Linked DNA regions of Homo sapiens: region 1 is linked to region 2. Evidence: fine-mapped expression QTL. Tissue or cell type: whole blood. Region 2 holds a variant in brackets; the other region holds the start of a gene. All regions are shown on one strand. Distances are between the middles of the regions.

Region 1 (5,148 bases), 62 kb after region 2:
CTGAGGAAACATGGCTTCTGTGTAAAGATCCCTCCCTCAAAGCCTTTTCTCCCTAGACCAGGCACTGACCCAGAGAGGGGTGTACAGTGTCTGATCTCAGGAACAGGCTCAGGCACCCCCTTGTGAGACACTCTGGAGAAAGCTGTGCGTGCCATGGCCACGTTCTGATAATAGCAAGCAAGTATCACGCAGTTACTATGTTCCAGTCACAGTGCTTCAGCTTTTGCTTGTATTCTGAGTTAATTCTCCCAACAATCCCTTAGAGATACTGTAAAATCCCCATGGGAAGAAACCACAGATCAGAGAAGTGATTACTGGCTAAGCCACACACTGCAAGTTAGCAGGAGGGCTGGGACATGAACCCAGCACTCTTGCTCTCTAGTGTTCAGGTGTTCTCAATAGTAACATTATTTCCATCTTTCCAAAGAAGTCACACAGCTGAGAAGCTGCAGGAGAAGAGCCATTCCTCCACATGGCGCTCCTAAATCACGGCAGAGAAGGGTAAGCAAGCTAACAAAAACCAGGGCACAAACTATACACCGACGGAGGTAGGATCCCCAGAAACCACGTTACTAAGAGAAAAGCAGGGATTTTCCTGGGGTCATAGCACTCCACCAAATCCCAGGTCCAGAATACAACTTCCACCACACTCTAGGCCTGTAAACTAAAGCAACTAGAAGCTCCTAGTGCCGTGCAATCTCCGAAATCATAAGGCCAAAGAACAAGATATTCAGTGGGGTTAATGAAGAAAGCCTCTTTCTGAGCCCATCGTGGGCCTCAATGTTCTTCCTGTAAAATGGGGCTATAGCGTAGCTTGTATTGCTGGTTTAGTCCTGAGGACTTAGGTTAAAGGCGAAAAAAACTCAGAGCCTGGTATCTAGTAGGTGCATAATAAATGATAAGATGTCCATTATCGCTGCTGCTGGTAGTGGTGGGGGAGTGCGAACTGTCAGTCTGGTTAGGTCCAGCCTAATTCCCGGTCTCCCTGCAAAGCCCCTGCGGGCTATGCCGGGATGCGAATGCGGGGGGGTGGAGGGGAGCGGCGCGAAGGGAGGGTGGGGGAGGAATTTCTGGAAAACAAACTTCTGGGCCTTCAGACCACTTACTTAGCAGGGCGCAGCCTAACCCGCGCTTGGCTTCGGAAGCCGCGACCAGGGTTGTCCCCTCTCCCCCCAGCTTTGGCTGCCGCCGCCGCGTACCGGGCGGCCCGCCAAGCCCCCAGAGCCCCTGCGCTCTCCCTCCAAAGCAGGAGTGCGGTGGACATAGGATGAGGTCGACTTTCACTGGCCAGTCCCAGGTGCCTACGCCCCGCGCTGGGGGACAGGAGCCGGGAGGCACCCCAGGAAGGGTCCTCTGCCCGCCGGCCCCCGCGAAGAGGAAGGGACTCCGCGGAAGGGGGCGGGGAGGAGGAGTGGTCTGGCCGCTCCGGCCGGGATTTGCCTGGACTTGAAGACGCTCAGGAGCCCAAAGCTCGGAGAGCCTCCAGAAGGCTTCTCCCTCATTGGCCAGGAGTCCGAGGGAGCCGAGGAAGGATCCGCGGCCCTGGGGTGGGGCGGTGAGGGAGAGGGGGAGAGGGAGGGAGGAGGGGGAGAGGGAGGGGGAGAAGGAGGGAGAGGGGAGACAGAGTGGGGGAGGGGTGCCGAGGGCCGCGGCTGCCAGTTGATGCAACCCGGGTCCCGGGTTACGCGCTCGGCTTTCCCTCCCCGAGCCCAGGACACACCGACTCAGCTCCGGACAGCCTGAGGCTCAGACGCGGTTCGGGGTTCCAGGGAAGAGGGGCGTCGCGCGGCCGCCGCTTACCTCTCCGGGGCCCGAGTCGCCGACGCCGCCCGGGGCGAACCGCAGGTAGTCCTTGAGCTCTGCGCGGCACTCGGAGTCCGCCACGATCATGGTGCGCGCCAGGACCCGGTCGCGGCTCGCCGACGACCCGTGCACCCGAGTGGGTTTCGGAGGGACGCCCGAATGAAGCCGGGACTGGGCGCCGCCGGGGAGCTTCTAGAACCCCGGGGCGTCTCTCGGGGCTCCAGAACGCTCCGGAATCCGAGAACGGCCGCTTTGGTGCTGGACTCTTCCCCCAGTCGGGCTTCGGGAACGGCGAACGGCCTCGGGGGCCTGGGAAGGGCCGCAGCGCAGGGGTTTTCACGGCCTCGGAAGTCCGCAGGGGCCAGGGCTGCTCCCGGACCCAGCGCTCCTCAGCATCCCCGCCGCGGAACTGCCAGCGCTCGCCGGGCTCTGACACCAGCAGTTCAGCCCGCTGCGGTCCCCGGGGGAGGGCGGGGACACAAAAGCCCGGCGGTCCAGCCAATCAGAGGTCTGTTTCCCCGGGGAGGCGGGGGAAACTCCGCCCCCTGGAGTCACGGGCTCCGCCAATCAGCACCGGGGAGCGCCCGGAATTCTGGGAGTTGTAGTCCGCCTCGGGTGAATGCTGCAAACTTTTGCAAGACGGTTTAGTCAGATCCCTGGCAACACCAGACGGCAGTGACAGCCCTAAGAGTCATTAGGGTTGCGTGATGAAAAGGGACTTCACTGGGCTAGGCCAAACAGCCGAGTGTGAAATCTCCTAAATGAATTCTTCATCTTTTCAGTTCCTGGAGGGACTGGCTAGGGTTAAGAGAGGTTTGGCTCGCGTCCTATCCGGTGCTGCTAATTATAGAACTGAACCCCAGATATTTAGAGGTCAGAGGGCACAACCCTGCTCCCCCTGGCCTCGGGGAAGCTCCAAAGATGCGAGACACAGGGAATTCACCTTATTTGTGGAGCCTCAGGAAAAGCCTTCATTCCTTGAAATGTCATTGGTAACTTCGTGTGGAACCTCAATCCCTATTGCTGGAAGTTTTCTTCCTTCTGCTACCCGTCCTGGCTTCCACCCCTCCCACCCTCCTCGAAACTTTGTAACAAGGTGTTCTGCTGGATCTTTGCTCACCTCTCCCTCTGGCCTTCTCTGACTCCTCTTTCACCACCCACTTCCTAAAACGTGGGTGCTTCCCCAGTTTGTTTTTGCCCCTCTTCCCTCCAGACACTCTCCCTGATCTCATTCACTTCCTGGCCTTCAACTCGCCTCTTGCCAGAAAGTTGCCTCTACCAACACCTCAGCACCTCCAAGCTAAATTCATTTTCTATTCATTTCAAACGGAGCCTCTTCCTTCACAGTTTTCCTTCAGAGCTCCTTTTTTTGTTTCCATTTTAAAGTTATTGTTTATTCTAGACAGGGAATCCTGCCAGGGGTGAGGGTGGATAAGACCCCCAAGTCCCCCTCTGAGACTTCTAAGTCTAAGCTTACAATTCCAAAGATGAAACCGACTTGGTTTCCTGCCTCCAGATTCTTGGGAAAAAGAGATTAATCTCACCCTCCCCTGAGCTCCCAAGGCACTTGAGCTGGATCTCTTTTCACATGTATCACATTCTACCTAGTTTTTTTTGTTTTTTGTTTTTTTGTTTTCTGTTTTTTTGTTTTTGTTTTTTGTTTTTTAGTAAATAGAGACAGGGTCTCAATATGTTGCCCAGGCTGGTCTCAAACTCCTGAGCTCAAGCGATTCTCTCACCTCAGCCTCCCAAAGTGCTAGGATTATAGGCATGAGCCACCATGTCCAGCCACATTCTGCCTTGTATTGTAATTTTCTATGTACATGTTTTATCTGACCCTTTTTTCTTTTTATTAGTATTGTTTTTTAGAGATGGGGTCTAGCTCTGTCACCCAGACTGGAGTACAGTGGCATGATCATAGCACGCTGCAGCTTCAAATTCCTGGGCTCAAGCGATATTCCCTCCTCAGCCCCCCAAATCAATCACTGGGGTTACAGGTGTGCACCACTGAGTCTGGCTTATCTGATCTTTTTAATTGTAAACTCCTTGAGGGCAGGGTCAACATCTTTTTTTTTTTTTTTTTTTTTTTTTTAAACAGAGTCGCACTCTGTCTCCCAGGCTGGAGTGCAGTGGCCCGATCTTGGCTCACTGCAACCTCTGCCTCCCAGGTTCAAGCAATTCTCCTGCCTCAGCCTCCTGAGTAGCTGGGATTACAGGCAAGTGCCACCACACCCGGCTAATTTTTGTATTTTTAGTGGAGACAGGGTTTCACCATGTTGATCAGGCTGGTCTCGAACTCCTGACCTTGTGCTCTGCCCGCCTCAGCCTCCCAAAGTGCTGGCATTATAGGCATGAGCCACCGCGCCTGGCTGGCAGGGTCTACATCTTGACATCCATCTCCTGCTCTATGTCACCTAGCAAAATGTCCTGACAATCATATGCCCTTGGTCACGGAATCTTCCTTTGCATCAACTTCCTCTCTAAACTACCCTGTGTCAGCTTCAGCTTTCATTTAAAAAATTTACTATGTGGCCAGGCGTGGTGGCTCACGCCTGTAATCCCAGCACTTTGGGAGGCCGAGGTGGGCGGATCACGAGGTCAGATCAAGACCATCCTGGCTAACATGGTGAAACCCCGTCTCTACTAAAAATACAAAAAATTAGCCAGGCGTGGTGGCGGGTGCCTGTAGTCCCAGCTACTTGGGAGGCTGAGGCAGGAGAATGGCGTGAACCCAGGAGGCAGAGCTTGCAGTGAGCCGAGATCGTGCCACTGCACTCTAGCCTGGGTGACAGAGTGAGATTCTGTCTCAAAAAAAAAAAAAAATTTACTATGTAATGTCAAAGTCCAGATCAAAAGGCTTCACTGGTATTTCATCAGCTACAGAATTAAGATCAAACTCCTTGGGTGGGCATGGTGGCTCACGCCTGTGATCCCAGCACTTTGGGAGGCAAAGGCAGGCAGATCACCTGAGGTCAGGAGTTCAAGATCATCCTGGCCAACATCGTGAAACCCCATCTCTACTAAATATACAAAAATTAGCCAAGCGTGGTGGTGCACGCCTGTAGTCCCAACTACTCGAAAAGCTGAGGCAGGAGAATCGCTTGAACCCGGGAGGCAGAGGTTGCAGTGAGCTGAGATCGTGCCACTGCACGATCTGGGTGTCAGAGCGAAACCCTGTCTCAAAAAAAAAAAAAAAAAAAATCAAACTCCTATCTTAACATTCAAGGTTTGCCAAGATGCACCTAATTTACCCTCCCATTCTTACCACCTGCAACATCCATGTTTCTTGTTTGGCCTTCAAATCTTTCTTTCAGTACTCTTCTTGCAAATCTCTACCCATTGAAA
Region 2 (5,148 bases):
GGAAATACTGAAGGAGAGACTGTGGTAGAAAGAATTATTGGCTGGGCGTGGTAGCTCATGCCTGTAATCACAGCACTTTGGGAGGCCTAGGTGGGCAGGTCACCTGAGGTCAGGAGTTCAAGACCAGCCTGGCCAACATGGCGAAACCCCATCTCTACTAAAAACAGAAAAATTAGCTGGGCATGGTGGCACATACCTGTAATGCGAGCTATTCAGGATGCTGAGGGAGGAGAATCGCTTGAACCTGGGAGGCAGAGGTTGCAGTGAGCCAAGGTGGTGCCACTGCACTCCAGCCTGGGCAACAGAGCGAGACTCTATCTCAAAAAAAAAGAAAAGAAAGAATTCTTGTTCCGAGTGGGAGAGATTGAATTATCATATTTCCTTGATTCCTAGACACTGTCCACTCTAAGTCATAGTATTGATTTAATAACAGAGTTTCAGTCGATTGATAAACACTCTCTCTCTATGTGTGTGTGTGTGTATATATATATATATATATATCTGTTATAAATTGAAGCCCGATAAACCCAGACACAAAATGCATCTTAGAGTTGAGAAAATGCAGTAGTCGAACTTTATGATTTCATAGATACTTAGCCTTAGTAATTCTATGCCTTTGGATTTTTTTCCTATTATGACAACTACAGCATTATTATTAATAGTAATGACCATCAGCAAACACCCAATGACAAATAAGAAATGACACCATTCTTAAGGAGTTTAGTTTGCTGAGAGACAGGTAAAACACCTCATATAATTTTGTGCCTAGTGTTCTTCATTGGGTGCTGACTCAAGAAATTCACCTCCCCACCCCACTGGCTGAATGACAGGCAGCATTAGCCATTTAATTCTCTTAATCTCAAGGCGGGGCCCTAAGAAAGTCTGTTGCAGAAGGGTAATTGGCCTATTTACTTGCTCCCTTCCTCTTAGCCCAGCCAACCCAACTCTAGCCTCTGGTTGACCAGGTGTTGAGGTGCCTTGAGGGGATAAGCTATAATAGTTAATGTATTACATGTATCCATAAAAGATTAAAGATTAGCTCTGTTTTAGCTGAACTGTAACTGTCTGTTTGGGTTTCTCCCCTCCCGGGCTGTCTGGGGAAATCAGTGTTGGTTTTAGTCTGAAGATAATTAACCGATAATTAACCCACTGGGTCTCAAATTTCCTGGACAGCTCCCCTTGAGTGTGTGATTACTGGGTGCCAGGCTCTGTGGTAAGCACTTTCTGTGAATCTGTATTTTTTTTTTTTTTTTTTGAGATGGAGTCTTACTCTGTCACCCAGGTGGATGTGCAGTGGCATGATCTCGGCTCACTGCAACCTCCACCCACCAGGTTCAAGTGATTCTCCTGCCTCCGCCTCCCAAATAGCTGGGATTACGAGCGTGCACCACCACACTCAGCTAATTTTTGTATTTGTAGTAGAGACGGGGTTTCACCAAATTGGCCAGGCTGGTCTCGAACTCCAGACCTCAGGTGATCCACCTGCCTCAGCCTCCCAAAGTGCTGGGATTACAGGTGTGAGCCACCATGCTCAGCTGAATCTGTATAATTCATTTCCTCCTCATACTAGCTCTCAGAAGCAGGTGGTATTCTCTCCATCTCACAGCTGCCAGAATTGCAAGTCTGCTGTATAATCTATGTGGAAGTAAAAGAGTTTGTTTCTGGTCCCCTAAGATCTCATCACAATTACCCCCTTCCTTGGGTCAAATGGTTTTATGCCATTATTTATGCCATCAACTCAAATGTTTTCTGGAGGAGACTCTTTGTACAACCCAGAGGAGAGGAGAAAGCCCAAAAAGACTTCATGGAGAAGCAGAAGGGCAGAGGTTAACACACTAGTGCTTAGGACTTAAGATGGGTCCTGGACATGGTGGATCATACCTGTAATTCCAGCACTTTGGGAGACCGAGGCAGGTGGATCACTTGAGCCCAGTAGTTCAAGACCAGCCTAGGCAACGTAGGGAGACCCCATCTCTACAAAAAATTAAAAATTAGCCAGACATGGTAGCCCTCGCCTGTAATTCCAGCTACTTGGGAGGCTGAGATGGGAGTGTCATTTGAGCCCAGGAGGTCAAGGCTATAGTGAGCTGAGATGCTTCCACTGCACTCCAGCCTGGGTGACAGAGCCAGACTGTCTCAAAAAAAAAAAAAAAAAAGAGAATTAGTGAAAAGAACATTGTAAGGAGAGTTGGCATATTCTCCATATGGGCATAGCAAGCACATTGTGGCACACAATACAGTCAGCACTTACTATGTGCCTGCGGTAGGAGAGGCACCATGCTGAACTTTGGGAATATAAAGAATAACTGGGACAACCTAAACCCCTGCCCTGAGAGAGTCCACATTCTAGTGATAAAATATTAAATAATATTAAAAATGGTTACAAAAGAAAGAAGGTGGAAAATATTTATGATATAATATTAACTACTCAAGCCAGTTACAAATGTACAGTGTGATTTTAATTATATAGAGTCCTTAAAACATCTTTACACAGGAGAAGAAAACATAGCACTCTAATACTAACAATAATTGCCTTTGTTTAACTTTGTTTAATGGGACCAGAGATTATTTTATCTCCACTTGTCTCTGTTTTCCTTTTATTTTTTTTTTGAGATGGAGTCTCACTGTGTCACCCAGGATGGAGTGCAGTGGCGCAATCTCAGCTCACTGTAACCTCCACTTCC[A/T]GGGTTCAAGCGATTCCCCTGCCTTTTTTTTTTTTTTTTTTTTTCGAGACAATGTCTCACTCTGTCACCCAGGCTGGAGTGCAGTGGCAAGATCATAGCTCACTGAAGCATCAATCTCCCAGGCTCGAGCAATCCTCTCGCCTCAACCTCCCAAGTAACTGGGAGTGAGCCACCACGCCCAGCCTATCTTCCAAATTTTTGATGAGTGTGGGTTACTTAAAAAGAGTAAAAGAAAATAACCTTTTTTTCCTTTTAAATGAAAAAAAAATGGCCAGGCGCGGTGGCTCATGTCTGTAATCCCAGCAATTTGGGAGGCCGAGGCGGGCCGATCACTTGAGGTCGGGAGTTCAAGACCAGCCTGACCAACATGGAGAAACCCCGTCTCTCCTAAAAATACAAAATTAGCAGGGCGTGGTGGTGCATGCCTGTAATCCCAGATACTCAGGAGGCTGAGGCAGGAGAATCGCTTGAACCCAGGAGGTGGAGGTTGCAGTGAGCTGAAATCGCGCCATTGCACTCCTGCCTGGACAATAAGAGAGAAACTCTCTCAAAAAAAAAAAAAAAAAGCCTGCGCAGTGGCTCATGGCTGTAATCCCAGCACTCTGGGAGGCCAAGGCGGGTGGATCACGAGGTCAGGAGTTCAAGACCAGCCTGACCAATATGGTGAAACCCTGTCTCTACTAAAAATACAAAAATTAGCTGGGTGTGATGGCACATGCCTGTAGTCCCAGCTGCTCGGGACGCTGAGGCAGGAGAATTGCTGAACCCAGGAGGCAGAGGTTGCAGTGAGCCGAGATGGTGCCACTGCACTCCAGCCTGGGTGACAGAGAGAGACTCCATCTCAAAAAAAAAAAAGAAAAAAAAAAAAAAAAAACTTGAAACAAACAAAATGTCCACACACAAGTGGATAAACAAATTGTGATTTATTTCTACAATGGAATACTACTCAGCAATAGAAAAAAACTACTGATGTACATAAGAAGATAGATTAATCTAAACTGAGCGTGGTGGCATGCAACCATAGTCTCAGACATTCTGGAGGCTGAAGCAGGAGGATCCCTTGAGCCCAGGAGTTTGAGGCTGCAGTGCGCTATGATTGTGCCACTGCACTCCAGCCTGGGCGATGGAGCAAGACCCTTTCTCTAAAATAATAATAACAATATTCTAAGTGAAAGAAGTCAGACACAAAAGAATATGTAATTTATGATTCCATCTATGTGATATTCTAGAAGAGATAAAACTAATCTACAGTGAGAGAAATAAAATCGTGCTTGTCTAGGGCAGGAAGTAGGGAGGACTCATTGCAAGGAGACATAAGGGACCTTTCTGGAAAAATGGAAATATTTATATTTTGATTGTGATGTCAGGTGCTCAAGTGTGTATATTTGTCAACACTCATCAAGATGTACATTTAAATAGATACATTTTATTTTATTTTATTTATTTGTTTTGAGATGGAGTTTTGCTCTTGTCACCCAGGCTGGAGTGCAATGGCATGATCTCGGCTCACTGCAACCTCCGCTTCCCGGGTTGAAGCGATTCTCCTGCTTCAGCCTCCCAAGTAGCTGGGATTACAGGTACCCACCACCATGCACAGCTAATTTTTGTATTTTTAGTAGAGACAGGGTTTTGCCATTTTGCCTAGGCTGGTCTTGAACTCCTGACCTCAGGTGGTCCACCTGCTTCGGCCTCCCAAAGTGCTGGAATTACAGGTGTGAGCCACTGCGCCCGGCCTACCCAGATGCATTTTAATTGTATGTAAATGTAAATGTATCTCAATAAAATTGATTAAAATAATGAAAAACATTTATAGTTTTTTTTCTGGTTACAAGAGCATTATGTGCTCATTGTAAGAAATTCAAATGTATTTTATTTTATTAATTATTTATTTTGAAATGGGATCTCACTCTGTCACCCAGGCTGGAGTGCACTGGGCACTGCAACCTCCACCTTCCGGGCTCAAGTGATCCTGCCACTGAAGACTCCCAAGTAGCTGTGAATGGCTGGGCGAGGTGGCTCACACGCCTGTAATCCCAGCACTTTGGGAGGCCGAGGTGGGTAGATCACCTGAGGTCAGGTGTTCGAGATCAGCCTGGCCAACACGGTGAAACCCTGTTTCTACTAAAAGTACAAAAATTAGCTGGGCATGGTGGTGCGTGCCTGTAATCCCAGCTACTCGGGAGGTTGAGGCAGGAGAATCGTTCAAACCTGGGAGGCAGAGGTTGCAGTGAGCTGAGATCACGCCACTGTACTCCAGCCTGGGTGACAGAGTGAGAATCCATCTAAAAAAAAAACCCAAAAAAAACAAAAAACAAAAACAAAACAAAATACCAAGTAGCTGGGGACACAGGCACCCACCACCATGCCTGGCTAATTTTTTCTATTTTTGGTAGAGATGGGGTTTCACCATGTTGCCCAGGCTGGTCTCAAACTCACAAGCTCAAGCGATCCTCGCGCCTTGTCC

The links. PIP is the estimated chance that this variant, and not a neighbour inherited with it, causes the effect.
Region 1: it holds the start of SESN2, and the variant in region 2 is fine-mapped to the expression of SESN2 in whole blood (TOPMed, PIP 0.97).

The regions. Positions count from the first base shown.
Region 1 is chr1:28,256,590-28,261,737 of GRCh38, reverse strand. SESN2 (sestrin 2) reads right to left here and starts at 2,220. Exons shown (of 10, transcript NM_031459.5): 1 at 1,801-2,220. The coding sequence starts at 1,890. RefSeq lists silencers at 1,310-1,369, 2,150-2,359 and enhancers at 1,629-2,477, 2,470-2,649.
Region 2 is chr1:28,318,207-28,323,354 of GRCh38, reverse strand. No RefSeq gene overlaps it. Among named protein-coding and RNA genes, the nearest start is that of MED18, 8.3 kb to the left of the region's middle. The variant A/T (reference allele first, on the strand shown) is at 2,685.